Linked DNA regions of Homo sapiens. The protein of the gene in region 1 interacts with the protein of each later gene in a biochemical or structural test. Each region holds a gene or a part of one and is shown in the gene's direction. Other genes may lie near its edges. The genes, in order: CDC25A, FBXW11, CSNK1A1 and NAA10.

The links.
Region 2: the proteins of CDC25A (region 1) and FBXW11 form a complex in vitro, tested with the Homo sapiens proteins (2 studies listed by BioGRID, with this or other methods).
Region 3: of the proteins of CDC25A (region 1) and CSNK1A1, one has a biochemical effect on the other in vitro, tested with the Homo sapiens proteins (one study listed by BioGRID).
Region 4: the proteins of CDC25A (region 1) and NAA10 form a complex in vitro, tested with the Homo sapiens proteins (one study listed by BioGRID).

Annotation. Positions count from the first base shown.
Region 1 is NC_000003.12:48,171,398-48,178,427, reverse strand, and holds part of CDC25A (M-phase inducer phosphatase 1), read left to right. Parts: intron 1-439; coding exon 440-574; intron 575-985; coding exon 986-1,057; intron 1,058-3,970; coding exon 3,971-4,144; intron 4,145-7,030. UniProt on the Homo sapiens protein: Tyrosine protein phosphatase which functions as a dosage-dependent inducer of mitotic progression. Directly dephosphorylates CDK1 and stimulates its kinase activity. Also dephosphorylates CDK2 in complex with cyclin-E, in vitro.
Region 2 is NC_000005.10:172,003,612-172,011,440, reverse strand, and holds the start of FBXW11 (F-box/WD repeat-containing protein 11), read left to right. Parts: upstream 1-4,802; 5' UTR 4,803-4,938; coding exon 4,939-4,983; intron 4,984-7,829.
Region 3 is NC_000005.10:149,499,419-149,506,448, reverse strand, and holds part of CSNK1A1 (casein kinase I isoform alpha), read left to right. Parts: intron 1-853; coding exon 854-1,002; intron 1,003-7,030.
Region 4 is NC_000023.11:153,932,038-153,939,631, reverse strand, and holds the start of NAA10 (N-alpha-acetyltransferase 10), read left to right. Parts: upstream 1-4,594; 5' UTR 4,595-4,727; coding exon 4,728-4,748; intron 4,749-5,156; coding exon 5,157-5,255; intron 5,256-5,630; coding exon 5,631-5,689; intron 5,690-7,047; coding exon 7,048-7,093; intron 7,094-7,200; coding exon 7,201-7,316; intron 7,317-7,516; coding exon 7,517-7,561; intron 7,562-7,594. Other genes in the region: RENBP (N-acylglucosamine 2-epimerase), read left to right, coding at 4,056-4,143, 4,228-4,346. UniProt on the Homo sapiens protein: Catalytic subunit of N-terminal acetyltransferase complexes which display alpha (N-terminal) acetyltransferase activity. Acetylates amino termini that are devoid of initiator methionine.

The DNA of each region.
Region 1 (7,030 bases):
GTCAGAACTGGAGTTATATATAAGTGCATTCTCTAGGCCATTTTATGGTCTTTATAGAGATTTGCATCTGCTTGCCCTAACTCATTTCAGCAGATTCTCATACTGTCACAGTCCTCAATGCTGATCGGTGTTCACTGATGCAACCTTCTAATAAAAGAAACCTTGTTCTTCACAAGAGGCTATCTCTAGTACCCATTATAAGGTGAATTGCTTCTGGCAAGAGTTCTCTGTAAAGGCTACTGACTACTCAGGGCTGTGTGTGGTCATCAAATCATTTATAATCTTGGGATACATTTTCATATAATCAGTAATGGCTAAAATTTTGCTTTGTATAACAAGTATAACATAGTATGTTTTCATCATAAAAACTAGTGACCCATTCAAGGAAATGAAAGTGGATCAGAGCTCTCATTATTAATCCATGAATTTTGTCTTACAGCTTTCCTCAAATGAAAGAGATAGCAGTGAACCAGGGAATTTCATTCCTCTTTTTACACCCCAGTCACCTGTGACAGCCACTTTGTCTGATGAGGATGATGGCTTCGTGGACCTTCTCGATGGAGAGAATCTGAAGGTACCGTGTGTGTGTGTGTGTGTTCCTATTTGTTCTACTAATTAATTACCTCTGGAGAAGGCATGTGATGTGAAAAAGAACAGCAACAGCAGTTCCCCGGGGCTTGCTTAGCTGATATTTTTGTTCATTTGGTGATAATTCATTTAATAATAGGGCTACCAGCCTTATTAAATCCTTTGGATTGGGGGATGGGGGCATCAAAAGAAGACACATGATCCTTCTTACCCTGAAGGAGCTAACTAACAATCTATATGCAAGAAACATGAAATCAGAACGGTATAGGATGGTACATTAAGGATACTTCCTATCCAGGCCTATCTGGTATTGTTCAGGGAGAAACACACCTAAAGCACTTAAACAAATGTTAGTCTCTACAGGCTCTTTTTAAAATCAGTTTTTCTGTTTCTTTAGAATGAGGAGGAGACCCCCTCGTGCATGGCAAGCCTCTGGACAGCTCCTCTCGTCATGAGAACTACAAACCTTGTGAGTTGTTCTAGTGTGTCTGGAGGAAGCCCTGCGTGATTGGGGCACTGGACAGAGTAGTCCTTAGTTGAGTATAGCCAAAGATTGAAATGCATGATAGGATTTGGGGATCTGGGTTTTAGGCCTCACTTTGGCTACCTACAAATTATGACCTTTAGTCATGATATCTCTCTGCATGTCTCCTGATGTATAAGGAGTGTGGGTTAGGAGGGACCATGGTCATTCCTAGCTTTTACCATCTAGTCAGTTTGAAAAAAGCCTATCTGAAGCCTTTAGCCTGAATACTTTACTTTTTTTAGGTTATTCTCATTTATATTCCACAGAACCTAGCATAAAATTAGACAAGCAACAGTAACTCACAGGATTTTTTTTGTTTCTGTGTTTTTTGTTTTTTTTTTTGAGACGGAGTCTCGCTCTTGTTGCCCATTCTAGAGTGCAGTGGCACAATCTTGGCTCACTGCAACCTCTGCCTCCCAGGTTCAAGTGATTCTCCTGCCTCAGCCTCCCGAGTAGCTGGGATTACAGGTGCCTGCCACCACACCCAGCTAATCTTTGTATTTTCAGTAGAGACGGGGTTACATTATGTTGGCCAGGCTAGTCTCGATCTCCTGACCTCAGGTGATCTGCCCACCTCGACCTCCCAAAGTGCTGGGATTACAGGCATGAGCCACTGTGCCTGGCTGGATGTTTTTTGTTGCTGTTTTGTTTGTTTGTTTTGTTTTGTTTTGTTTTTCATTGAAAATACCTACCTGAGGCTGGGTATTTTCAGGTAGATATTTTCGATTTTAAAAATTATATATAATATATATTTTATATATATATATATATATATATATATACTCACACACACACATACACAGTATAGATTTGTGTTTCCATCAGGGATACTTTCAAACAGAAAGCATAGTATATGTAGATACAGAATCTATAGTGTATGTGTGTATATATATTCAAAATCACATATATATACACACACATACACATGCTATAGATTCGTGTTTTCATCATAGGGATACTTTCAAAGTTAGAAGCAAGAATGTGCCTATACAGATATATACACCTGTATGTTCAGAGATATACACCCTTAGGTACACATCTAAATTGATAAGTTCATATTTTTTAATTCTCAATAACCTGAACTATAATTACAGAACAAATGAGCTACAGTTTTTTTGTTTGTTTGTTTTGTTTTGTTTTTGAGACAGAGTCTCCCTCTGTTGCCCAGGCTGGGGTGCAGTGCAGTGGTGTAGTCTTGACTTGCTGCAACCTCTGCCTCCTGGGTTCAAGTGCTTCTTCTGGCTCAGCCTTCTGAGTAGCTGGGACTACAGGCTTACGCCACCACTCCCGGCTAATTTTTTTGGTATTTTTAGTAGAGACGAGGTTTCACTATGTTGGCCAGGCTGGTCTCGAACTCTTGACCTCAGGTGATCCATCCACCTGCCTCCCAAAGTGCTGGGATTACAGGCATGAGCCACCGTGCCCAGCCAAGCTACAGTTTTGAGATCACTTATGGATTATAGTACATTCATGTGCATAGCTTTTGAGAAAATATGTTAACGCAGTACAAATGTTATGAGTAAATTTACCAGGTCATTTTGATAGGCATAAAATTACATAAAATGTGAGAACACTTTGGAAGTGGCTGTTAGTTTTATAGATTTGATTTTAGAGTCATAAGCATGGGCTTGTAAGCTCTTAATAGTGGGGAAATGTCTTCCACAAATGGTTATTACAAACTAACCATTGCTGGGAGCTGTAATGGAAAATAAACTTCACACAAAAGAGGAAGAAAATCCCCGGTCTCTATGGGAGCAGATGTGGGAGTGATCCATTCTACTGGGGACTATCAGGAAGATTTCAAAGAAGTGACATTGAAATGTTAGCATCAACTTGAAAATGAATGGTTTACTGAGATGTGAAAGGACATTCTGTGCAGAAGGAAAAGCCAGGCCAAGACACATGGAGTCGAGAATAGGCTGAGATGCGTTTAGAGAGCTGACTCTTGCTACCACTGGTCAGATTGGCTTCCCTTGGGCTCTGGAAAATTTGTCTTTATTTATTTATTTATTTATTGAGACAGAGTCTTGCTCTGTCACCCAGGCTGGAGTGCAGTGGTGCAAATCTTAGCTCACTGCAACCACCACCTCCTGGTTTCAAGTGATTCTCGTGCCTCAGCCTCCTGGGTAGCTGGGATTAAAGGCACGCACCACCACACCTGGCTAATTTTTTTGTATTTTTAATAGAGATGGGGTTTCTTCATGTTGGCCAGGCTGTTATTGAACTTGTGACCTCAAGTGATCCCACAGTGTTGGGATTACAGGCGTGAGCCACCGCGCCCAGCCTGGGAAATTAGTCTTTAAAAGACCAAGTAGAAAAAAAGACTTTGAACACAATTTTGAAAGGCATTTGCTACTCTGCCCATCCCCACTCCCTCCAAATTTACCATCTTAACTATACCTTAACCAAAGATGCCCCCATTTTTATTATAACCTGGCTACTGTGCATCTTTTCTGGATTTAAGTGGGGTATTTAAACCCGTTGACCTGCTTAATTAAGCAAGGTGCAAGTAATAAAATGGAGGGGAAGATAGGCAAGCCAAAAATGTGTTCCTGACTGGAAGGTCACACTTCTCTTGACGCAGGATTATGTAGACAGTTTTTGTGAGGGCAAAGGACGTTTTGCTCATCTCTATATAATGTCAGCTGAGTATATATTCATTGAGCACTAAGTGCTCAGTGCCTACTATGTGCCAGGCCCTGTGAGAGTTGCTAGGACTAGATGAATCGGCAGTGTCTGTTGGCTAATTTAGAATTGATCTTAGATCATCCCAGGAAACCTTCGGTTTATTTGTCTTACCATTCAAGTGAACAGGTTTTAATGAAAGATGGGTCTGTCTGTTTTTTTTCCTGTAAGGACAACCGATGCAAGCTGTTTGACTCCCCTTCCCTGTGTAGCTCCAGCACTCGGTCAGTGTTGAAGAGACCAGAACGATCTCAAGAGGAGTCTCCACCTGGAAGTACAAAGAGGAGGAAGAGCATGTCTGGGGCCAGCCCCAAAGAGTCAACTAATCCAGAGAAGGCCCATGAGGTTAGTTTCCTAGGTTCCTTTTTGCTCTAGCACAGATACTGTATTTTTCAGTTCTAAAAATTTCTACTTAGTGGTTCATTTATTTTCTTTGCTAAGATTTGCTGGGGTTTTGTGGGGTTGTGTGTGTGTGTGGGTGTGTGTGTGTTTCTTTTAATAGAGATGGGATCTAGCGATGTTGCCCACGCTGGTCCTGAACTCCTAGCCTCAAGTGATCCTCCTGCCTTGGCCTCCCAAAGCACTGGGATTACAAGTGTGAGCCACCACACCTGGCTGATACTTGGCTGTTTTCATGTTGGTTTTTCATTTGCTTTGAGTATGTTCATAATTGCCTGTTGAAGCATTTTTAAGATGGCTGCTTTAAAATCTTTGTAAGACAAATCCAACATCCATCCATAGTGTTGTTGGCATCTGTTGATTGTCTTTTCCTGTTCAAGTTGGGATTTTTCTGGTTCTTGGTATGACCGGTGATTCTTCCATTGTCTCCTGTATATTTGTGAGTCTCCGGTCTATGTAAATTTTACGTTTTAGCAGGCTTCCTCTGATACTGCAAGAAAGGCATGGGTGGAAGTCCGGGTTCCCCAGCACAAACTCCATTGACACCTTGGGTGGGGACTTGTCTCATTATTGCTGGGAGGGAGTGGAAGTTCATTCCATCCCCGTGGGGTGGTGACTGGGGCACTGTATGACAGCTGGGCAAAGGTGGAGGCCCCCGCTTGCTGTTGGCCATAATTGTTTCTGTGTTGACTAGTAGAATGATTATTGTCTAAAAGTCTTCTGCCTCAATAGGCCATCCTTTGCCTAGGGAGAGCAGGCTTTTCTTGGGGCTTGTTGTGTTGCTGTCTCCAGCTTCATGAGTTGAATGGTTAACTCATTCGTTTTTAATTTTCTTATTTCTGGATAAATCTATTTGAATCTATGAATTTCCCACTGCTTTAGATTTGTCTCATAACTTTTGACCTGAAATGTTTTTATTATCATTTGTTGTAGATATTTTATTTCCTTTTAATCCAGACCTATCATGGCCTATTAAATACTTGATTTTTATAAAGGTCTGTCTTTTTTTTTTTTTTTTTTGAGACGCTCTGTCGCCCAGGCTGGAGTGCAGTGGCGCGATCTCAGCTCACTGCAAGCTCTGCCTCCCGGGTTCATGCCATTCTCCTGCTTCAGCCTCCCAGTAGCTGGGACTACAGGACCCCGCCACCACGCCTGGCTAATTTTTTGTATTTTTAGTAGAGACGGGGTTTCACAGTGTTAGCTAGGATGGTCTCCATCTCCTGACCTTGTGATCCGCCCGCCTCAGCCTCCTAAAGTGCTGGAATTACAGGCGTGAGCCACTGCGCCCAGCCCTGTCTGTCTAATTCTTCAAGTTAATTCATTGCATTGCTCATAGTTGTATAGGCTGTTTTGTTGTTTCCTGTTTCTGAGACAGGGTCTCTCTGTCACCCAGGCTGGAGTGCAGTGGCATGATCTCCGCTCACTGCACTCTCCACCTCCCAGGCTCAAGCAGTCCTCCCACCTCAGGCTCTCAAGCAGCTGGGACTATAGGTGTGTGCCACCAAACCCAGCTAATTTTTGTATTTTTTGTAGAGACAGGCTTTCGCCATGTTGCGCAGGCTGGTCTCAAACTCCTGGGCTCAGGGCAATCCTCCCGCCTTGGCCTCCCAAAGTGCCAGGATCATAGGTGTTAGACACAGCACCTGGCATGGGTGAGCTAGTGTCATGGTTGTCTGGGCCTAAGTCCTATGGTCCTTTGTGTTATTTTTTCTATTTATTCTGTGGCTAGACACACAAAACACTGGTTTATTTGTATGTTTTTCCTTCATTATACTGTCCTTATATTGAGGTTTGGTATTAAGCATTATAAAATGGTGAACTACCTGTGTTTTCTGTGGCATGAAAAGGTTTAAGTAAATCTCATCACAGTCTTAAAAGGTTAGAGAGATGACAGCTAGGAAAACATTTAGCATTTAGGCCTACTGCCTTATCGTATCTGCTTTTGTTTTTAATGCTTTATGAATGTTTTTAAAGTATTGTTCTAAAAGAATATTTTAATAATTGCATAGTATTTTTGTTTTGGGAGAGTTGTTTGGTTTTGGTTTTTGTTCTTTTTGTTTGTGGGGGGCACAGGGTCTAGCGCTGTCACTCAGGCTGGAGTGCACTAGCACGATCACAGCTCAGTACAGCCTCCATGGGCTCAAGCACTCCTCCCGCCTCAGCCCCCCTAGCAGCTGGGACTACAGGCATGCACCACCATGCCCAGTTAATTTAAAAAAAATTTTTTTTTATTTTTTGTAGAAAAGAGGTCTTACTGTGTTGCCCAGGCTGGCCTTGAATTCCTGGGCTCAAGCAGTCCTCCCACCTCAGCCTCCAAAGTATCTGGGACTACAGGCACAGGCCAGTGCACCTGGCCGATAGTGTTTTGACTTACAAGTATACTAGAAATAATTGAATAAATCACCTTCTGGACATTTAGAATTTCCCTTCCCCTGATTTTCCTTTTATTTCTAATTAAAAATGAAATTCTGGGTTATAAGGGCAAGAACATTTGTGAAACTTTACATTGTATACATGTCAGAAAATATCTATCAATATTTAATAATATTCTGGCTGAGTGCTGTGGTTCACTCCTGTAATCCCAGCACTTTGGGAGGACAAGGCGGGTGGATCACGAGGTCAGGAGTTCCATACCAGCCTGGCCAATATGGTGAAACCCTGTCTCTACTGAAAATACAAAAAATAGCTGGGTGTGGTGGTATGAGCCTGTAATCCCAGCTGCTCAGGAGGCTGAGGCAGGAGAATCGCTTGAACCCGGGAAATGGAGGTTGCAGTGAGCAGAGATCACGCCACTGCACTCCAGCCTGGGTGATAGAGTGAGATTTCATCTCA
Region 2 (7,829 bases), on another chromosome or scaffold:
GGCTGAGGCAGGTGAATTGCTTGAACCCAGGAGGTGGAGGTTGCAGTGAGCCGAGATTGTGCCATTGCACTCCAGCCTGGGCAACAAGAGCAAAACTCTGTCTCAACAAACAAACAACCCCCAAAATTAGCTGGGTGTGGTGGCACGCACCTGTAATCCCAGCTACTTATGGGCAGCTGAGGCAGGAGAATCTCTTGAACCTGGGAGACGGAGGTTGCAGTAAGCCAAGATTGCGCCACTGCACTCCAGCCTGAGCAACAGAGTTAGACTCTGTCTCAGAAAAAGAAACAAAAAAAAGCCTGGGCACGGTGGCTCAGGCCTGTATTCCCAGCACTTTGGGAGGCCGAGGCAGGTAGGTCACGAGGTCAGGAGTTCAAGACCAGCCTGGCCAACATGGTGAAACCTTGTCTCTACTAAAGATACAAAAAATTATCCAGACTTGATGGAGCACGCCTGTAATCCCAGCTACTCAGGAGGCTGAGGCAGGAGAATTGCTTGAACCCGGGAGGCGGAGGTTGCAGTGAGCTCAGGTCACGGCCACTGCACTCCCGCCTGGGTGACAGGGCGAGACTCCATATATAAATATAAATATAATATATAAAATATAAATATATAAAAATATATAAATATAAATATATATAAATATATAAATATAAATATATAAATATATAAAAATATAAATATATATACACATACATATATATATGTATATATTATATATATGTATGTGTGTATATATATATATATATATATATATATATATATATATATATATATATAGTTACAGGAAATTGCCTACTGAGGTGCCACTAAACTCACCGGGAAGCCACCACCCTCTGAATGTCCCAGCCCCCTTTGTGTGTGGGGAGGAAGGGATGGTTCTATAAGCCATTTGCTGCCATGTGCCACAAAGCAAGAAGGAAAAGAAAGTACACTGGAACCAGGATGAGAAGCCCCTTCATTCTGCTGTGTTCCTCTAGTGCTCTCTACTGACAAAGTTAAACACTGTGCCAGCTGGCAGAGAAGTATTTACAGGATCCTGCTCCAGTATTTCAAAGCATAGAAAAGAAGGTTAGATTTGGAGCTATGAGGTTATAAATTGATGGCAGGCACATACATGTTCTGCTGCAGAAGAAGGTATTTGATTACGGAGTGCTGTCCTGAGACCCCAGAAGGAGTGTTACATTGTACAGTTTATGTAATGCACCATTGTGCCTTTGTACAATCTAAGCAATTCTGGGTTCTGAACTGGACCTCAGGGGAATCACGACCTGTACCACTTTGTTATGATCATGTCTTGCAAACCTCAGTGAAGAGCTATCTGAAACACGGTGGGAAAATATGCCTCAGGGTGTTCTGCCTTTGTCTATGACCAAATCTAATCAACAGCTGCCATCAAGCCTGAAGCAATAAGAGCACCTGAGTTCTTGTTTGAGAAGAGGTGAGAGCAAGGTGATAAAGCCTTGGCTCAGCTTGCCTCTTACGTAGCTTGGATAAGACTTCTTTTATCATATATATAGTGTTTATTTATTTATTTATTGTTGTTGTTTTGAGACAGGGTCTTGTTCTGTCACCCAAGCTGGTCTGGTACCCAAGCTGGTCATTCTGTCACCCAGGCTGGAATACAGTGGTGCAATCATGGCTCACTGCACCCTTGACCTCTCAGGCTCAAGTGATCCTCCCACCTCAGCCTCCTGAGTAGTTGCAGCCACAAGCGTGAGCCATCATACTTGGCTAATTCCTATGTATGAGCTTTTAACCCCACTGAGCTCCTGGAATTTGACCTAATAATATTAGTACTTTTTTCCTTTTAAGGCAGCATACAATTTTCTTTTTTTTTTTTTGTAGATCATGGTGCAGCCACAGAGATGGTAGCCCCTCCCTATGCTCCCAGGTATACGATTTTAATAAAAGGACAGAAACCTTGATTTATCTCCACTACAGTTCCAATGCCAGGGGATGCAAACTCAAATATCTATACAGGTTAGGGATGCAACTTAAATGAGTGAAGCATGCAGATACAAGGCAAAAAGGAGTGATGGCAACTGTGGAAAACCATAGAATATATGCTTAAATAAAGGTAGTTGCTATTTAACCCCTGCATATTGTTGCCATGTAGATCTAATTGTCAGATATTCTAATTTTTCAAGAAAAGCTGGAAATTCAGATTTTGAAAACCTGAACATCAAATTTTAAAAACAGTAAAAAAGACGGTATAGGACAAACATATGTATGTGCCGGGTCGGCGGGGGGAGGGTCACATCCAGCTTGTGACTCCTACCCCATGCCTGTTTTTATGCCCCTGTACAATCCTTTCCCACACTGACTATGGGTGTGGCCATACTACTAGTTTTGGCCAACGGGACATTACCAAGTGTGGTGCATACCAGAGGTTTGATAAGCATTTGTTCACTGGGGCTTGTCCTTTCTCAAGTCACTATGCAGACGTTTGAATGATAAAAAGCCACAGGGAGGAGAGGCCCTAGAAGATGAAAAGTCATTTTGAATGAGTTCCCAGCTGATTGCATGTGGGCCCCGGCTGAGCCCGGGTCAGCCCACACAATTGTAAAATCATAATAAACCATTGTTATTCTAAGCTACTAAGTCTTCGGAGGTTTGTTGTGTTGCAACAGGTAACTGAAATAGAGGTCATATCTAATCCCTTTGTTTTACTAATGAATGTCCTAAGGGCCATAGTGGAACGGACCTGGTGAAATTCAGATAGCATGACAGTGGTAAGAACTTTCCAATTCTGTGCTCTTCCTATTGCTTTTCTTTCAATTCCCTTGGTGAAAAGCACCAGGTAAGGACTATGAAACTTCAAAGTCTACCTGCAGGGAACTTATACTGTGTCCTGAATGCATGCAAATTACTGTAACTTGGTCCTTGGTAATGGAAAGATTTCTAGGTCATCCAGCCTCTTTGACTTTATAGGTGCAGAGAATGCAAAAACACTTTGAGAAAGTGAAAAGCAGCCTCTGATATCTGGAAGCTGGCCTGGTACAATCAGCCATGCCATGATGTTACTAGACCACAGCCTGGCCCTTATAGCTAGGCTTTGTGTTTTCCTGTAGAACAAAAACAATTCCAAAGAACATCAACATCAGACGAGGTCATTCTGTGACCATGATAGATCCAGACAAATACAAGACCACTCTATAATCAGGTCTAAACACGATAAAAAGATAAAACCTGATGATTGTCCAAACCACAAAAAATGACTCAACATCCCCACTTGGCTAATATGAGGGAGCTGCTGCTGCACTTTTTTTTTTTTTTTTCGTTTTTGAGACAAGGTCTGGCTCTATCACTCAGGGTACAGTGGAGTGGTGCGATCTCCATTCACTGAAACCTCCACTTCCTGGGCTCAAGCGATCGTCCCACCTCTGCCTCCCAAGTAACTGAGATGACAGGCGCGCACCACCAGGCCCGGTTCATTTTTGTATTTTTTGTAGAGAAGAGTTTCGCCATGTTGCCCAGGCTGGTCTGGAACTCCTGCGCTCAAGCAATTCGCCTGCCTCGGTTTACCAAAGTGCTGGGATTACAGGCGTGAGCCACTGCGCCCGGCCAGGCTGCTGTTTCTTTATCTGCACAGCTTTAGCCTCAATCTAGAATTCCCTTCCTCTAGATAAGATGAACTGAGATGCTCAATCATGGAACGACCCTCTCTTCCTGACAGTATCTAATCCAGTGAAGCTCTCACTTCCTTAAACCCTCTCCCAAATCACTAACAACTCTTACCGAGAGGCCCTATCGTTCCTCAATGTGTGTTCTCAGTCACTGCAACTAGTAATAAACCCAGCTTGTTCAACGATCCGTGTCTTCCTGGTGGGATTTGGTTAGAGGGCACGGACAGACCTAAGTTACACAGAGTTGGAGGCTGAGTTCACTAGAAGGAGTCTCCGCTTGTGTGTTCCTTCTTAGCCACTCTTTTGGTTAGTGTCTGTCGTCCCTCCACCAGAATTAAGCTCCATGAGAACAGGAGCCTTGTCTGTCATGTTCAGAGCTGATTCTCAGCGCCTAGAACGGTACGCAGCGGAAGCTGGATGCTTAAAAAATAACCATTTTCTGAACGAATGAATGAGGGGCTCGATATACGCACGTCCCCTTTAATCTCGCAGCTCCTCGCAGATCGTGTGACATACAGACAGCACCACAGCACATTTCCCAAAACCCCGTCTTTCCCGAAGAAATCTCGAAACTCTCACTCCTGGGATGCCCATCCTCTCAGAGCCTCTTCCCCAGGCCGAGCTTCTCTCACTCGCTGGCCCCTTCCCACACCTGAGCCCCAGGTCTATACACCTTCCTAACGCACCTAGAACCCACCTGTCTCCACCATCTGCCCCTACCATCAGACACTGCCGGACGGGCCGCGCAGCTACCTAGGCGTCTAGGGAGCACTGCGGCATGGACCGCGCATGTGCGGAAATGGGTCGCATACGCAGGACCTCCGACAAGTGAGGAGTTGCCTCGGAGTTTCCGTCCCGGTCTGGGCAGCCTTGGGCTGCCAGGAAGTCAAGAGAAGCTAGCCGGAAGGACAACCCGGGCGCACGGCTTTCTGGGACACGTAGTCGTGGCGCTCTCGAGGCCCTGCCATGAGCAAGCTCTTAACTCTTCAGGTCTGCACGTCCTACGCCCACCGTCCAGTGCTACTCTCAGCTCGGAGTTCAGCTTCGGGCTGCCAAGAGCCAGCAACCTGGTGTCAGAGGCTCGGTCCCACAACGCTCTGCGGGCCGCGGCGCCTGCTGGGAGGTGTAGTCCCCGATCTGCGTACTGCGTTCGCCGAGGGGGAGGGCGGAGCTGCCGGCGGCCCGGGCGGGCTGGCAGCTAGAGTGGGTGCGATAGCCGCCTCCGCCTCTGCCGCCTCCGCCGTCGCCTCCTCCGCCCGGGCCGTTCGCTGCTGCGCGGGGAGAGCGAGGCGGGGCCGCCGGGGCCGCCATGGAGCCCGACTCGGTGATTGAGGACAAGACCATCGAGCTCATGGTGAGTGCGGCCCGCTGGACCGTCTGTGCTTCCGTCCGTCCGGCCCCGGGCGGGCCTGCCCACCTCAACGTCCGGTGCGAGGCCGGCTCTGGCCCTTCCCAGACGCCTCGACCCAGACCCGGGCCCCCAGCCTTCCCTGGCCTCGGACCTGGCGCGGGCTCCTCTGATCCCTCGACATCTCCGGCCGGTCCTGGCCCGGCCCCCTCCATGCCCCTCGCTTCTCCCCCTCCCCCTGGTCCCGTCTCCGGTCCCAGCTCTCGGACGACCCTCGCTCGTTTATGCTGTAGACTTAGGTCGCACTCGCTCTAGCACCCCATTCTCCTTCTTTTAGAAAGGGATTTTTTTTTCTTTCCTCTGTTTCGGCCCAGGCCCGCACCGCGCTTGCAAGCCCCACTCAGGCCGAGTGAGATGGTGGGAAGGAGTACGGAGATGGGTTGGGGCCGCCTGGGCCTCCGCGTCCTAGGAGAGGTCTCAGCACCCACTCCCCAGCCTAGGTCTGTGTGGATGCCAGGATAGGCCCTACAGAGCTGGGGGGGCAGGGAGCTTTCGGGTTTGAGGCTGTGGCGGATAAGGAGGCCTCTTTCCCGGGCCCTTGTGGTGTCCGGCTTCTCGGACAAAGGGTTTCCTACCCGGCGGAGAGGGATGTTTGCATAGCAAGGGCCCAGGTACTCTGGATTCCATCCTCCAGGAAAGAGAAGGCGCAACTTCACGTTTTCCAGAGCTGCTTTGGGAAATTGGAGATGACTGGGGAGGGAGCCATCCTCATCACTGCCGCGAGGTCTTTCTTCTCAGAAAGAAAAAAAAAAGAGGGGAATCCTTGGCCCCCGGGGGAAGCGACCACTCTTCTGTTAGAAACCACTGGCAGCCAGGCCAGACTCCCGGTCCGTGGACACCCTCCACCCTCCTCCGAAGCTTTAGGATTTGAAACCAGAAGGGGTTTTTAGGAACAGGACAGTGAGAGAGTGGCTAGAAGTGAAGAATTTGCTAATTGATGGATGATTTGGTGGAAGAAATAAAATATGGCAGATATTACCTGCCAACGTGAACATGAGGGAAATCAAATTGGGCTCTGGAGAGCTGGGAAGAGGAAGTCTGCATCAGCAAATGGACATGTCCAGGATTTCTTCCTATGGAAGCCTTGACAGTTTCTTTGTATCTTTCCTAACACGGTAACAACTTCTTCCCCAGGGTTGAGAGGAGAGGTGGAAGAATCTACTTAACCCAGCAAAATGTTTTCCTAGCCAGATTTTCTTCAGTGTGAAAATGTTTATTGAGTCAGTGATTCCACTGGGTAGGGTTGGTGACATCAGAGCCACTTCCCCCATTTAACGCTATAAATAATAAATGGTGACACTGAAAGTCTGTTGGATAGCTGCATGGTTTCTGTGGATGATGGTGTCTGGGGAGTTGAGATGCTTGTTTTAAAAATGGAAGTACAGTAGCATAAATATGGAGGCAGCTTAATGTTTGCTGTCCTTTGCATAATTCACAGAACTGGACTTCTCTAGCATTCTTGAAAACTAGGAGGGAAAAAAAGAAACTGATAGTTTTTGATTTTTGCATGCGTGTGTGTGTGTGTGTGTGTGTGTGCACGTGGGGTTGTTTTCAAAGGGATGTCACATACTGAGTGATTTTTCCTTTTCAGCATAATTTATCATACTTGTAGTCAAGTGTTTGGTATTCTGTAACTTTTGTAGTGGGTTATTTTGGTAACTATCTTAAATCGACTAAGTATATTACATATTCTTAAGAATGTACACACAGTGCATGTACTTACAACAGAAGTACTTCATATCGAAAAATTGTAACTTGGTGCCTCTTTGAAATTGGCTGTTCCCAGCTCCTTCCATTTCTATTCCTTTAAAAAATAACGAAAATGTATTTATTTTCAAAAGAATTATAAGAAATACGTTGTAACCCAAGTCAGTGTATGGTTACAAAATAAAAAAATAAAAACCTTTGGCCTAAATTCACTGGCTTCCTATGCTTATAACTTAAAAAGTTTTGATTTTACATGATAGCACTTGGTTTTGATCAGAAAAGAGATTTCAGCCTGTTAAGGACATTATAAACTGGGATTTAAACTGGAATTCTTTGAAAATTTAACAGAGTTTAGTTATATTACGATTAATTTTAAAATGGCCTTTTATTTAAGGATTTTGATATTTCCTGAAAGGGATATCAGTTAAGACTCTTAGACAACCCTTATCATAAATTAAATATGTGTATTTATTTTAGTAAAGTAGCACAGGTGCTTAACAACTGATTGAGTAAATCCAGGATCAAATGTAGGAAATAATGCCTTAGAATCTAATTGCATGTGGCTTTCTGTTTTCACTGCATTTCAATTACAGTTTCCAGAACTGGGTTAAAAATATTTTTTACATTGGTTTCAAGATAATACGATTGATGGAGGAAAAGGGGTTAAACTGATGGTGTTTTGAAAGCCTAAAGCATGAAATATTTTTAGATTTTTATGAGTCAGCTTCAGTACTCAAATATTTGTGATTGTGCTGCTTGTACCAGTTTGGCACTTAATGCTTAACAAGATAACTTTCATTTGCTGTTCCAAAGTGTGCTGTATTAAAAAGAGGAAACAGACTTCTTGGTTATCTCCATTTTCTAATCTTCATCCCTGTACTTTCCTTAATATTGATTCTTCTGTTTTTCCTTGCATTTTTGATAAGTATATTAGGAAATAAAGCTGGTGATAGCAGAATAGTTAAATTTCTAAAATATAACCCCCACTTTGACTCCTACCGCTGCCTGAGGCCTGGGTCCACCCAGGTTGCTTCTCCTCCTGACCCACTCTATAGGATTCAGCTTTGAATATTAGTAAAGTCTAT
Region 3 (7,030 bases), on another chromosome or scaffold:
CCTGCCCGACATGGTGAAGCCCCATCTTTACTAAAAATACAAAAATTAGCCGGGTGAGGTGGTGCTCACCTTTAATCCCAGCGACTCGGGAGGCTGAGGCAGGAGAATCTCTTGAACCTGGGAAGCGGAGGTTGCAGTCAGCTGAGATCCCCCCAGTGCACTCCAACCTGGGTGACAATGAGGCTCTGTCTCAAAAGAGAAAAACAAAGAATTCAAGTAATCTGCCAGGTGCAATGGCTCACACCTATAATCCTAGCACTTTGGGAGGCCGATGGGGGTGGATCACCTGAGGCCAGGAGCTCGAGACCAGCCTGGCCAACATGGTGAAACCCCGTCTCTGCTACAAATACAAAAATTAGCTGGGTATGGTGGCAGGCGCCTGTAATCCCAGCTACTCAGGAGGCCGAGGCAGGAGAATTGCTTGAACCTGCGAGACGGAGGTTGCAGTGAGCCGAGATTGCACCACTGCACTCCAGCCTGGGCAACAAGAGCAAAACATGGTCTCAAAAAAAAAAAGAGAGAATTCAGGTAATCTTTTAACCCCAGAAAAGTGTCTTCCCCAGGTACCAGTCAGACATCTTATTCCCAAACTTCCAGTTGAATATTTACTCTTACTTGTTTTTAGGAAGTACCTCCTCTTATGAGTATTCCCCTAGATAACTGACAGCTTGATTTCATGTTTCAGTTTTCATGCTGCCTTTTTCATCTATAATAAGAAATATTTTAGAAGCTGCCACACTTGAGGAAATATTCGTTGTGTAAAGAAATGCTGTCACTGTCTTAAAAAGTTAGTAGGTTATATAACTGGACTCTGTTATTAAAGGATTAACATAAAATATTTTATGTGTTCCAGGACCCTGAACCATCAATATGACTACACATTTGATTGGACAATGTTAAAGCAGAAAGCAGCACAGCAGGCAGCCTCTTCCAGTGGGCAGGGTCAGCAGGCCCAAACCCCCACAGGCAAGCAAACTGACAAAACCAAGAGTAACATGAAAGGTTAGTAGCCAAGAACCAAGTGACGTTACAGGGAAAAAATTGAATACAAAATTGGGTAATTCATTTCTAACAGTGTTAGATCAAGGAGGTGGTTTTAAAATACATAAAAATTTGGCTCTGCGTTAAAAAAAAAAAGACGTCCTTGGAAAATTTGACTACTAACTTTAAACCCAAATGTCCTTGTTCATATATATGTATATGTATTTGTATATACATATATGTGTGTATATTTATATCATTTCTCTTGGGATTTTGGGTCATTTTTTTAACAACTGCATCTTTTTTACTCATTCATTAACCCCCTTTCCAAAAATTTGGTGTTGGGAATATAATATAATCAATCAATCCAAAATCCTAGACCTAACACTTGTTGATTTCTAATAATGAATTTGGTTAGCCATATTTTGACTTTATTTCAGACTAACAATGTTAAGATTTTTTATTTTGCATGTTAATGCTTTAGCATTTAAAATGGAAAATTGTGAACATGTTGTAATTTCAAGAGGTGAGTTTGGCATTACCCCCAAAGTGTCTATCTTCTCAGTTGCAGAGCATCTCATTTTCTCTCTTAAATGCTCAAATAAATGCAAAGCTCAGCACATCTTTTCTAGTCACAAAAATAATTCTTTTATTTGCAGTTTACGTATGATCTTAATTTCAAAACGATTTCTTTGTTTTTGGCTTGATTTTTCACAATGTTGCAAATATCAGGCTCCCAGGGTTTAATGTGGAATTGAAGTCTGCAGCCAGGCCTTGCAAATTGAAGGTAACTGGGGCAAATGCCATTGAAACCGCTAGTCTTATTTCCTTTCTACTTTTCTTTGGCACTCTTACTGCCTGTAAGGAGTAGAACTGTTAGGGCACACTGTTGCTATACAGTTTAACTCCCATTTTCATGTTTTGTCTTTCTTTTCCCATTTCTGGGGCTTACCTCCTGATACCTGCTTACTTTCTGGAAGTAGTGGGCAAGTAAGATTTGGCTCTTGGTTTCTAATTTTTAAATTTCTGAATACTGCCCTAGTCTGAACTTGGCCTTTATAGATTAATCTTTGCTTCACATTTTTAGTGTTGTATTTAAACTATTTTATAATTTAAAAATAGATTCTAATCTGAAGATACTTTTCAAGAAATATTATTAACTGATGTCATCCTCATCCCAGCAGCTCATCTGTTAGGAATGAAGTTGAGATGCTTCTATTCCATGTTTTTGTATTTGGGAAGGATTCAAAGTTGAAGGTTTATTGTCGTTGGGTTTTTCAGATGGTGACATGTAAACTCAGGATAGCAAACCCTAATGTTCACACAGTGCTCTGCCTCTGCATCTCAGTTGGGATAGTTGCTCCTTTTGAGTGTTTTAATCATCGTATAACTAATCATAGTGCCAAGAAGTTCATAATGTGTTATGTAGCTAATGTCACTGAAAAACAGTCCTACCATTTTAGGTAAGACCAAACAGAGTCTCTAACCCAAGGACTTGTTACACCTGACAACCTATAGTATATTTGCTTTTTCTCACAAAATGAAACCAATTTTGCCGAAAGCTAGCTGGGATAATAGGATCATCACAAGTTGCAGTTTCTATAACTAAAATTAGATTGAAATCTCTTCTGACCTAGAACATTTTACTTCAGGCATTCAGCAGATTTCAGAAAGAATTACCTTATTTTAAGTTAGTTTCTTTGTTAGTTTACTGTGTGTCTCTTATTCAATAAACAAGCAGAATTTGTGTCCTGCCCTATCCATGTCTTAAAGATGAGAAGTTGGATCCACTGAGTTAGTTTCATTGGGGCGGGGGAAAGAACTGTAATTAAACTTGTTTAATCCTTATTTTGTATTGTAGCTATTTTTTGTAAAAGCAACTTAAAATCTTTTAAAAATTTTATAGTGACATTAGAGACAATGGTCATACAAATTATCACATAAACATGGACTTGAAAAATTAGGCTTTTCATAAAACACATCACATGTCATTGACTGCTTTTTAGAAATACACTTCCAAGGCAGTACATCTGTATTGCTACTGAAAAGTGCCATTTCACAGAACACAGACTTCTTTTTGCTCTTTGACATCTTGAAAACATCTGTTTTTCTTTTTTAATACAAAACTTTGTGCTCAAGACAAATCTTACATGAAACTCTCATAAACCATGAAAATGTAGCTGGCCTTCGGGCCTTAGGCATGAAATAAGCATGAGGAACATATTCCCCTAACTTCTACCCCCAGCCCAGCAAGTTATCCTTTAAGAAATCTCCTAGGAATTCTGGAGTTTGAAAACAATTGCTCTATGTTATTCCTGCTTCCAGTCTCTAAGTAACAAGGGCATTTAAAAGCATAGTCTCTTAAGGTCCACTATAGTGGTTCTTTATTTAAGGAATAACTCAGCTGGGTGCAGTGGCTCACGCCTGTTATCCCAGCACTTTGAGAGGCTGAGGCAAGCAGATCACTTGAGGCCAGGAGTTCGAGAGTCTGGCCAACATGGTGGAAACCCATCTCTACAAAAAATACAAAAATTAGCCAGGTGTGGTGGCGTGCACCTATGGTCCCAGCTATTTGGGAGGCTGAGGCAGGAGAATTGCTTGAACCTGGGAGGTGGAGGTTGCAGTGAGCCAAGATTGTGCCGCTGCACTCCAGCCTGGGTGACAGAGTGAGACTCTGTCTCAAAAAAAAAAAAAAAAGGAACTCATACAGCTCAATGATTCATTGATCCCAATAATAAATCGTTTTAATAATGATGAAAACATCCTACTGGGGTTTTCTTGTTAAAAACTTTAGGACAGGCGCAGTGGCTCATGCCTGTTATTCCAACACATTTGGGAGGCTGAGGTGGGAGAATTGCTTGACCCTAGGAGTTCTAGACTTGCCTGGGCCACATAGTAAGACCCTGTCCCAGCTCCCTCCAACATCGTCCCCAACCCCCCCCCCCCCAAAAAAAAAAAGCGCCAGGCGCAGTAGTGAGTGCCTGTGATCCCAGCTGTGTTGGGAGGCTGAGGTGGGAGTATCACCTGAGCCCTGGAGGTTGAGGCTGCAATGAGAGCTGTGATCATGCCACTGCACTCCAGCCTGGGCAACAGATGAGACCCTGTGTCACAACAAGGAATTTTTAGAAGGTGCTTTTTATATTACTCTTCACAGAGTTAAATTTTCAGAGGATTTAGTATTATTGAACTAAGTTTCATAAGTGTATTTTAAGCAAGTAAATCTCTAATGTAGGAAAATCCCCAAAATGGTAGCATTTACTAATGTTTTATATGGTAATTTTTGAAAAATATATCTGATATTTCTTCAGTAAAAATGGTGTTGTTTTAATAACTTAATAAGAATGTTTAAAGATTCTTTAAGTCTGGCTTATCTAGCTAATGTGGGCCTATTAAATAATAGGCAGACTTCTGCCTTCCTTATATTCTTTAGATCTTTTCAAATACTCCATTCCAATATCCATCAAAAGACTTCTCTTTATGCCACTTATTATCTATACTAGTTTTTAATGTTCAATTACTACAAGATTATAATTACTGTTTTTATTCATGTTCCCAAGAAAAATACATAAGATTCACACCCAACACACTTCGAAATTTATTTCACTCCCTTTGACTATATGTGATTATCAAAAAAGTATTTTTCAAGATATTAAAAATAAGTAAAGGAAAATGAAATATTTTTAGGACATTCAAAATCTAATGAAGTTCAGTGTTTCTTTAATTGAGGGCAGGCAGAGGTGGGGGAGAATTTCAGAAGGTAGTGAACCCAAAGGTGGATTCTTGGATAATTCTACTATTCTGTACTCTCATCATCTTAACCCATCTGTTTACTACCCTAACCATAGTTACTAAGCAGAGTTTTATCATAATAATATAGACAGCTCTCAAAGTATTGACATTCAGAGGGGATTACAAATATTATTTTTCTATCATATTGACCTACCATGTCCACAGTCTTCCTTGAATTACCTTCCAGTTTTACTGGGCTGCATCTACCGTTTATGTCTAGTTTGACTTTTTCTGAGTTCACCAATTGCTGCTAGGAATGTGCTGGTCACTCAGCAGCACACCCACATCACAGGGGAAGATTTTGAAATACCTGGACAGTCTGAACACACTGCTCTGAATACACTCAATTCTAAGAAGTACCAGGGAACCGCATCTTCTTGCTGAAATCTTGAATTTTTGTCAGCTTTTTTTTTTACTGTGGACAGTAAAGCTGGAAAGATCTAAATAACCCAACAGGAAATGCGGATGAAAGTGCAAGAGTTGGTTTGTGGTCATCTGGAGTCCATGTCTCCAAGACTGCTGGACCTTCAAATTCTGCAACTTGTTAGATCATCTGGATGATAGCACAACTGTTAGAAGACCTAGAAGAATACAGCGTTGCTATGACTCAGTGGTGTTGAATGCAGACCATCTACCAGCTGGGGAAAGAATCAATTATAAACAGGTATTTTAAAACTCCAGAACGTCAGAAATGTGTAGCAGAATGAATTCTGTTATAAGGAAGACAAAACAATTCAGTCTGTTTTTTAATGCAGTTTAGGAATAGTGTATACCTCCTATACTTAAAATTGTCATTTATCTTTCCCAACTTTAAATACTCTTTTAGTTTCTATAGGGAAGGAAGAGTTATTACAGGTTTTTTTTTTTTAATTATTCTTTAACTTTAGATACTGCCAATCTGATTTAAAATTCTCCAAGCTTAATTCTGTGCAACAAACAGAACCACACAAGCAGCCAGGCACTGTGGCTCACTCCTATAATCCCAGCATTTTTGAGGCTAGATGGGAAGATCACTTGATCTCAGGATTTTGAGAACCATCCGGACAACATAGGGAGACCTCATCGCTATTTTAAATAATTTTAAAAAGAAAAGAAAAAAAAAGGCCGGGTGCGGTGGCTCGCTTCTGTAATCCCAGCACTTTGGGAGGCTGAGGCGGGCAGATCGTGAGGTCAGGAGATTGAGACCATCCTGGCTGACACAGTGAAACCCTGTCTTTACTAAAAATACAAAAAAGTAGCTGGGGCCGGGCGCGGTGGCTCATGCCTGTAATCCCAGCAGTTTGGGAGGCCGAGGCGGGCGGATCACAAGGTCAGGATATCCAGACCATCTTGGCTAACATGGTGAAACCCCGTCTGTACTAAAAATACAAAAAATTAGCCGGGCGTGGTGGCGGGCGCCTATAGTCCCAGCTACTTGGGAGGCTGAGGCAGGAGAATGGCGTGAACCCAGGAGGCGGAGCTTGCAGTGAGCCAAGATCGCGCCACTGCACTCCAGCCTGGGCGACAGAGCAAGACTCCATCTCAAAAAAAAAAAAAAAAAAAATTAGCTGGGCGTAGTGGCGGGTGCCTGTAGTCCCAGCTACTTGAGAGGCTGAGGCAGGAGAATGGCGTGAACCCAGGAGACGGAGCTTGTAGTGGGCGGAGATCGCGCCATTGTACTCCAGCCTGGGTGACAGAGCGAGACTCCGTCTCAAAAAAAAAAAAAAAAAAAGAAAAAAAGAAAAAAAACCCCACAACCATGTTATAGGAAAAGTTAGTATAAATGACATAGCATAATTAATATATTCAAAATAACTTTTAAAAAGTTGTCTTGTAGCTTGAAGGGATCCTAAATATCAAAAGCCCATCACAAACTTACAAGCCTTACTGCTACGTAAATATCCCTTTGAACTAGTTTCTGGTTCTATTTAAAAAGTCGAAAACTGTTGAAATTAATTTACGAATAAGAACAGATACACACTTTGTGGGGAGGCTGAGGTGGTAGGATCTCCTGAGCCCAGGAGTTTTAAGTCCAGCCTGGGCAACATAACAGCAAGACCCCATCTCAAAAAAAAAAAAGCATATCTTTTGTTTATTTTTTTAATAGACAAAGTCTCACTATGTTGCCCAGGTTTATTTGGAACTCCTGGCTTTAAGTGATCTTCCTGCCTCAGCCTCCCAAAGTGTTAGCATTATAGATGTGAGCCACCTCGTCTGGGCCAGAGCATACATTTTAGATTTCAGATTGGGTGGCGGGCAGGGATAGAATATCCTTGTTAGT
Region 4 (7,594 bases), on another chromosome or scaffold:
CTGGGTCCTGGGGCTTGGAGGGGAGGGTGTTATGGGGGAAGTCTGTAGGGAACAGGGCAGAAGCTGGGACAGCAGAGGAAGCTGTAGCTGTCATCCCAGCCAGTGAGGGCTGGCCCAGGTGGGAGCTGGTGGGGACAGAGGGTTCACAGTCTGGTGGAGCAGCAGTGGGATTCCTGAGTCTCCAGTTCAGACGGAGAGATCTGGACTCACCATGAATGTTTTCAGTATCACAAGAATGTAGATGCTGCCTGGCACAGTGGCTCATGTCTATAATCCTAGCACTTTGGCAGGCTGAGACGGGAGGATCGCTTGAACCGAGGACTTCAAAACCAGTCTGGGCAACATAACGAGACCTGGTCTCTACAAAAAATTTTAAAAAATTAGCTGGGTGTCATGCACACCTGTAGTCCTAGCTACTCAGGAGGCTGAGGCAGGAGGACTGCTTAAGCCCAGTTTGAGGCTGCAATGAGTTATGATCACACCACTGCACTCCAGCCTGGGCTGGGCAACAGAGCGAGACTATGTCTCAAAAAAAAAAGGCCGGGCACGGTGGCTCACGCCTGTAATCCCAGCACTTTGGGAGACTGAGGCAGGTGGATCACCTGAGGTCAGGAGTTCAAGACCAGCCTGGCCAACATGGTGAAACCCCATCTCTACTAAAAATACAAAAATTAGCCAAGCGTGGTGGTGGGTGCCTGTAATCCCAGCTACTTGGGAGGCAGAGGCAGGAGAATCGCTTGAACCCAGGAGGCAGAGGTTGCAGTGAGCCGAGATCGCACCATTGCACTCCAGCCTGGGGGACAAGAGCAAGACTTGGTCTCAAAAAAAAAAAAAACAAAAAAAAAAAAACAGTACAGATGCTGCTGAGATCTATGAGGCAAAAAGGGAAATGGGGGCCCAGCAAAGGAGACAAGAATCAGTGGTGACGCAGGAAGAAAACCAAGCCAGGGGCTCCCTGAAGCCCAAGTGCTAGGAGCAGAGTGATAAGCTGTCTTGACTGCTGCCCAGGAGGCAACTCGAGCTGCTGAACACAGGAAAGGGCATGGCACCCAGTGGAAAGGGCATGGCACCCAGTGGAAAGGGCATGGCACCCAGTGGTGGCAAGGCCTGGGTGGTGAATGAATGAAGATTCATCATGCGTTTCTAAAGCCACGACTCCGACTCCACTGGTGAACCCTGGTACTGCGAGGACTATAGCAGGGGATCTTATTCTGGGGTCTGTGAGCTTCGAAACCGGGGGCGGAGAATCACATCTTTATTTGTACTAACCTCTAACTGAAACTAGCATTTGCTGCCATTATGAGTGGAGGCAATGAACCACATTGGTAATAGAAGTGCCTGGCTTTGTCACCGATAGAAATCCAGATGTGTTTACATTGCATTGCAGTTAGAGAGACATCTGCAAGTATCACATATATTCGTCACTACTTCCAAAGCAGCAGGGTTGTTAGACCTGCAGCTATATCTTAATATTTAATGCATTCATAGAGTGTGTGTTAGGGGCCACCAGTTCTAACTCAAAAATGAAATTGAAGGAATACATTTTAATAAGATATAGATGACATTAAACAATTACAAAAGTTATAATCAACAGGTAAATCGGCTGGGCATGGTGGCTCATGCCTGTAATCTCAGCACTTTGGGAGACTGAGGCGGGTGGATCACCTGAGGTCAGGAGTTCTGGACCAGCCTGGTCAACATGGCGAAACCCCGTCTCTACTAAAAATACAAAAATTGGGCTGGTCGCGGTGGCTCACGCCTGCCATTCCAGCACTTTGAAAGGCCGAGGCAGGTGGATCACTTGAGGTCAGGAGTTCGAGAACAGCCTGGCTGACATGGTGAAACCCCCATCTCTATTAAAAATACAAAAAATTAGCCGGGTGTGGTGGCGGGTGCCTGTAATCCCAACTACTGGGGAGACTGAGGCAGGAGAATCACTTGAACCCGGGAAGCACTCCAGCCTGGGCAACAGGAGCAAAACTCCATTAAAAAAAATAAAAAATAAAAAAAATAAATAAATAAATTAGCCGGGCTTGGTGGCGGGTGCCTGTAATCCCAGCTACTCAGGAGGCTGAAGCAGGAGAATCACTGGAACCTGGGAGGTGAAGGTTGCAGTGAGCTGGGATCACGCCACTGCACTCCATCCAGTCTGGGTGACAAGAGCGAAACTCCGTCTTAAAAAAACAAAAACCAAAAAACTAACCAACAAACAAAAAAACAGGTAAGTCATTATGCATCAACCAACATAACAGAATACAGAAGGCAAAAATCCAGACATTGAAGGAAATTCTTCTTTACCTTCCTGTGTCATGTCAAGCAGTCAAAAAATAAGTAAGGACTTGAACAATGTAACTCAAAAGACAGAATGAATACACACAGAACTAGTTTTTATTTATTTATTTATTTATTTATTTATTTATTTATTTATTTATTTTTGAGACAGGGTCTCTATCGCCCAGGCTGAGTGCAGTGGCACAATCATGGCTCAGTGCAGCCTCAACCTCCTGGGCTCAAGCGATCCTTCCACCTCAGCCACCCAGGTAGCTGGGACTACAGCTGTGTGCCATCACGCCCAGCTAATTCTTTAATTTTTTTTTTGTATAGATGGGGTCTCACTATGTTTCCCAGCCTGGTCTTAAACTCCTGGCCTCAAGTGATCCTCCCGCCTCGGCCTCTCAAAGTGCTGGGATTATAGGCGTGAGCCACTGTGCCCAGCCCAGGACTAGTTTTACTTCCTACAAAGAAGAATACACCAACTCTTATGGGCCACCATTTAAAGAGACATTTTCATAGTGGACTTCAATGTAATTGAGTCCATGATCCTTTTGAGAAGGGGCTGAACTGACAAGCCTCCCTGAGACAGGTGCCCCATGGAATGCTAGTGGAGAGAGAAGGAAAGAGAGTGGAATGGGCACTGGGCAGGGGCAGAGGGAGGAGGAGATGAGTTTGGGACCAATGGTGAGCCAGGACAGGAGTCAGATGAGATTGTGCATCTACTGGAAGACAGGCCTGTGAAGCCGGGAATGGGAGCTCCAAGGGAGTCACTTCTTAAGAGTTTCATGACAGGTCGTCGCCTCCATCAGGGTTCTTTGTTTCTTTTCTTTTCCTTTTTTTTTTTTTTTTTTTGAGACGGAGTCTGGCTCTGTTGCCCAGGCTGGAGTGCAGTGGCGCGATCTTGGCTCACTGCAAGCTCCGCCTCCCGGGTTCACGCCATTCTCCTGCCTCAGCCTCCCGAGTAGCTGGGACTACAGGTGCCCGCCACCACTCCCGGCTAATTTTTTGTATTTTAGTAGAGACGGGATTTCACTGTGTTAGCCAGGATGGTCTCGATCTCCTGACCTTGTGATCCGCCCGCCTCGGCCTCCCAAAGTGCTGGGATTACAGGTGTGAGCCTTTGCACCCGGCCGGGTTCTTTGTTTCTTTGAATCAACGTAACCACGACTACAATCACAATAGAGAACTTTTTTGTTTGTTTGTTTGTTCGTTTGTTTGTTTGTTTGAGATGGAGTCTCGCTCTGTCACCCAGGCTGGAGCGCAATGGCGTGATCTCAGCTCACTGCAACCTCCGCCTCCTGTGTTCAAGCTATTCTCCCGCCTCAGCCTCCCGAGTATACTGCTGGGATTACAAGTGCGTGCCACCACGTCCGGCTAATTTTGTATTTTTAGTAGAGATGAGGTTTCACCATGTTGTCCAGGCTGATCTTGAACTCCTGACCTCAGGTGATCCGCCCGCCTCGGCCTCCGAAAGTGCTGGGATTACAGGCGCAAGCCACAGCTCCCGGCCCGATAGACAACGTTTCTACACCCCAGGGCAGAGTTCTTTCATTCCATCTAGCAGTGTCTCATCCCCTTGCCCAGTCGGTTATATAGTTGTAGCCTGCCTGCTGCGCCCACCCCTGCTTTCATCTTTGTGGAGGACGCAGTGTCGCGGTTAAGATCGCTGGTTCTGGAGCCACGTCACCTGGGGTCAACCCAGGCTCTGACCCCTGGTAGCGATGCAGTGGCATCTGGGCGGGTCCTGCAGGCGCTAGCTGTCACTGTCTCTGTTATTCCAGTTTCGCGATCCCGAGTACGGGGAATGGTTTGGCTACCTGAGCCGAGAGGGCAAGGTGGCCCTCTCCATCAAGGGAGGTCCTTTCAAAGGTGAGTGGGGGAGAGGGCGGGGCCGCAGGGGTTGCGCCTCTCGGCTGCCCCCGGCCCTCACTACCTGCCCGCCTCTACCCGCAGGCTGCTTCCACGTGCCGCGGTGCCTAGCCATGTGCGAGGAGATGCTGGGCGCCCTGCTGAGCCGCCCCGCCCCCGCCCCCTCCCCCGCCCCCACCCCCGCCTGCCGAGGCGCGGAATAAAGGCTGAGTCCGCTCCACCTGCGGCTGTGCGCGCGTCTGTGGGCTCGCGGGAGGGGGGCTGTCGCGCCGAGGGAGGGGCCGGCTCCAGCTCCGGGGCAGCGCCCGCCCCGCCCCCAGGCCCGCCCCGCGCTGACCGGCTCCGCGCATTGGCCCGCCCCGTGCGCTGGCCTGTCCCGCGCATTGGCCAAGCGGCCGGGAGGACGGGCCCGGCGGCCGTGCACTTCCGGCCGGTGGCCGGCCCGGCGCGCACCGCCCCTTCCGCCGTCGCCCAGCGAGCCCAGCTCCGGTCCCAGCCCCGGCCGTCCCGGCGTCGCTTCGGAGCGCGGCGGCAGCTGACTGCGCCTTCACGATCCGCTGGGACCCGCGAGCCCCGCCGCCGTTATGAACATCCGCAATGCGAGGGTGAGCGCCCGGGGCGGGAGGCTGTCCGCGCCGCGTGGGCGCCGGGCCGGGTGGCTGCCGCGCATGCTCCCGAGGGCCCCGGCCGAGCCCGGCCCGGTGGCCCTGAGTGTGCCTGCGGCCGCTGGACCTATGGGGCTGGCCCAGCCCGCCGAAGAGGCCGGGGCGCGGGGCCGGGGCTGCGATTCCCTCCTGTTTGCGTGATGTCGGGCCTCCGTTGGGTGGGCTCCGGGGACCTCCGGGGCGCCCACTCCTGTTCCTGTGCTCCGGGCGTTGTGCAAAGTCAGATCGTCACAGTGCCTGCCCAGCCCCGAGGGAGCGGGGCCGAGCAGACCGACGGGGAGCAGGCTTCTCACCCGTGGTCACCGCCGCCTTAGACTGAGCGCGTTCCACTGCCCTCCTTCCCTGCAGCCAGAGGACCTAATGAACATGCAGCACTGCAACCTCCTCTGCCTGCCCGAGAACTACCAGATGAAATACTACTTCTACCATGGCCTTTCCTGGCCCCAGGTGGGCAGCTTCTGAATTTGGGCATGGGGGAAAGCAGGCCGAGGAAAATCCCATCTGGCCATCTTGGAGGGAGTGGACAAGTCTGTCAGAGCCCAGGGGGCTGTATGGTCGGTGGCGTCCTGGGTGTTTTCAGCTGGCAGACAGGGGCAAAGGAAAAGAAGGCGCCCGAAGGGAGCAGAGAATAGGGGCAGGATCCCCACTTTGCGTCTTCTTTCTGGGTATGGGCAGGGCACAGTGTGGCGAGGGGGAGACCAAGCCACTCAGCCCGGAGGTCATGAGCCATCACACAACTCGCCACTCGTCCAGTTTGTGTCCCTCTAAAGGGCTCTTCTAGCTCCGACAAGAAGTTTTCTCACTCTGTTTTCCTGTCACCAGCTCTCTTACATTGCTGAGGACGAGAATGGGAAGATTGTGGGGTATGTCCTGGCCAAAATGTGAGTCACCAAGGAGGAAGACAGAAGCTACACGTGTCTGGTGGATGCCTCTGTGGGCTTTAAAAAAAATGAATAGGCTTCTTCTTTTCAGTACAGTTGAAAGTTTATAGAAAAATTGAACAGAAAGGACATGGAGTTCTTATAGCACCCCTCAGCATCCCCTCCCTGCCAGCTTCCTCTGTTAGTAGCATGTTGGATTTGTGTGGTCCACTTGTGACAAGTGATAAATGAATGTGATATGTTACTATTATTATTATTACTATTATTATTTGAGACGGAGTCTTGCCCTGTCGCCCAGGCTGGAGTGCAGTCGCGTGATCTTGGCTCACTGCAACCTCCACCCCCTGGGTTCAAGCGATTCTCCTGCCTCAGCCTCCTTAGTAGCTGGGATTACAGGCACATGCCACCACACCTGGCTAATTTTTGTATATTTCAGTAGCAATGGGGTTTCACTACGTTGGCCAGGCTGGTCTCGAATTCCTGACCTCAGGTGTTTCCACCCACCTCTGTCTCCCAAAGTGCTAGGATTACAGGCGTGAGCCACTGCGCCTGGCCGATATATTATTATTAACTAAACCCATAGTTTACATTACTGCACTTCTCTTTGTGTTGTAAGCCCCATGGTTTTGACCAAATGACATGTGTCCACCTTCATATTATCGCAGGATAGTTTCACTGTGTTCCACGCATTCATCCCTCCCTCTCCTTAACCCGTGGCAACCACTGATTTTTTACTGTTTGCATGGTTTTGCCTTTTCCAGGATGTCACAGAGTTGGAATCATACTATATACAGCTTTTTCAGGCTGGCTTTTTTTCACTTAGTAATACACATTTAAGCTTCTGCCTTGTCTTTGCGTGGGTTGACAGCTCATTTCTTTTTTTATTTTTTGAGACAGGGTCTCGCTCTGTTGCCCAGGCTGGAGTGCAGTGGCATGATCATGGCTCACTGCAGCCTCAACCTCCCAGGCTCAAGTGATCCTCTCATGTCTGCCTCCCAAGTAGCTGGGACCACAGGCATGCGCCACCACATCCAGCTAATTTTTTGATTTTTTTTTTGTAGAGACAAAAAAAAGTGTTGTCCAGGCTGGTCTCGAACTCCTGGGCTCAAGCAGTCCTCTTGCCCCGGCCTGCCAAGTAGCTGGAACTATAGGCGTGTGCCCCACACCCGGCAGGCTTGGGGTTTTCAGGCAGCAGAGGGTGGCAGGATCGGCTGCTCTGATCCAAGAGGCTCCCGGCTCTCCCCCAGCTGGGGTCTTAGGGGGCTGTAGTGCATGTCCACTCTACAAATGGCAGGGGGGCTGGAGGTGGCTGTGCCTACACTGAGCTCCTTTGCAGCCTCTCCTTTCTCCCTCTCCAGGGAAGAGGACCCAGATGATGTGCCCCATGGACATATCACCTCATTGGTATGTAAGGTCCACCCAGGCTCTCTGGTGGGGGTGGAAGTGGGGGTTAGTTGGGGCAGCCCTCAAGGTCCCAGTCCCTCACCCCATCTCTGCTCTTCTCCCACCAGGCTGTGAAGCGTTCCCACCGGCGCCTCGGTCTGGCTCAGAAACTGATGGACCAGGCCTCTCGAGCCATGATAGAGAACTTCAATGCCAAATATGTCTCCCTGCATGTCAGGAAGAGGTGGAAGCCGGGCTGAGGGAAGGGGGATTGAGGGGGAGAGATACTGCCTTGACGGGGGTCCTGGGGTACCTCAGCTTTTGGTGAAGATCCAGGAAGTGGGATTGGGGGGAAGGAGGGACCAGGAGGAGGGGCAAGACCTGGACGTGCTACCCCTCCCTGGCCAAATCCGTGCAGCTCAGCAGTGCCTTGTTCCCCTGCAGTAACCGGGCCGCCCTGCACCTCTATTCCAACACCCTCAACTTTCAGTAAGTAGATCTCGATTTTTCTAATGGGCTGGG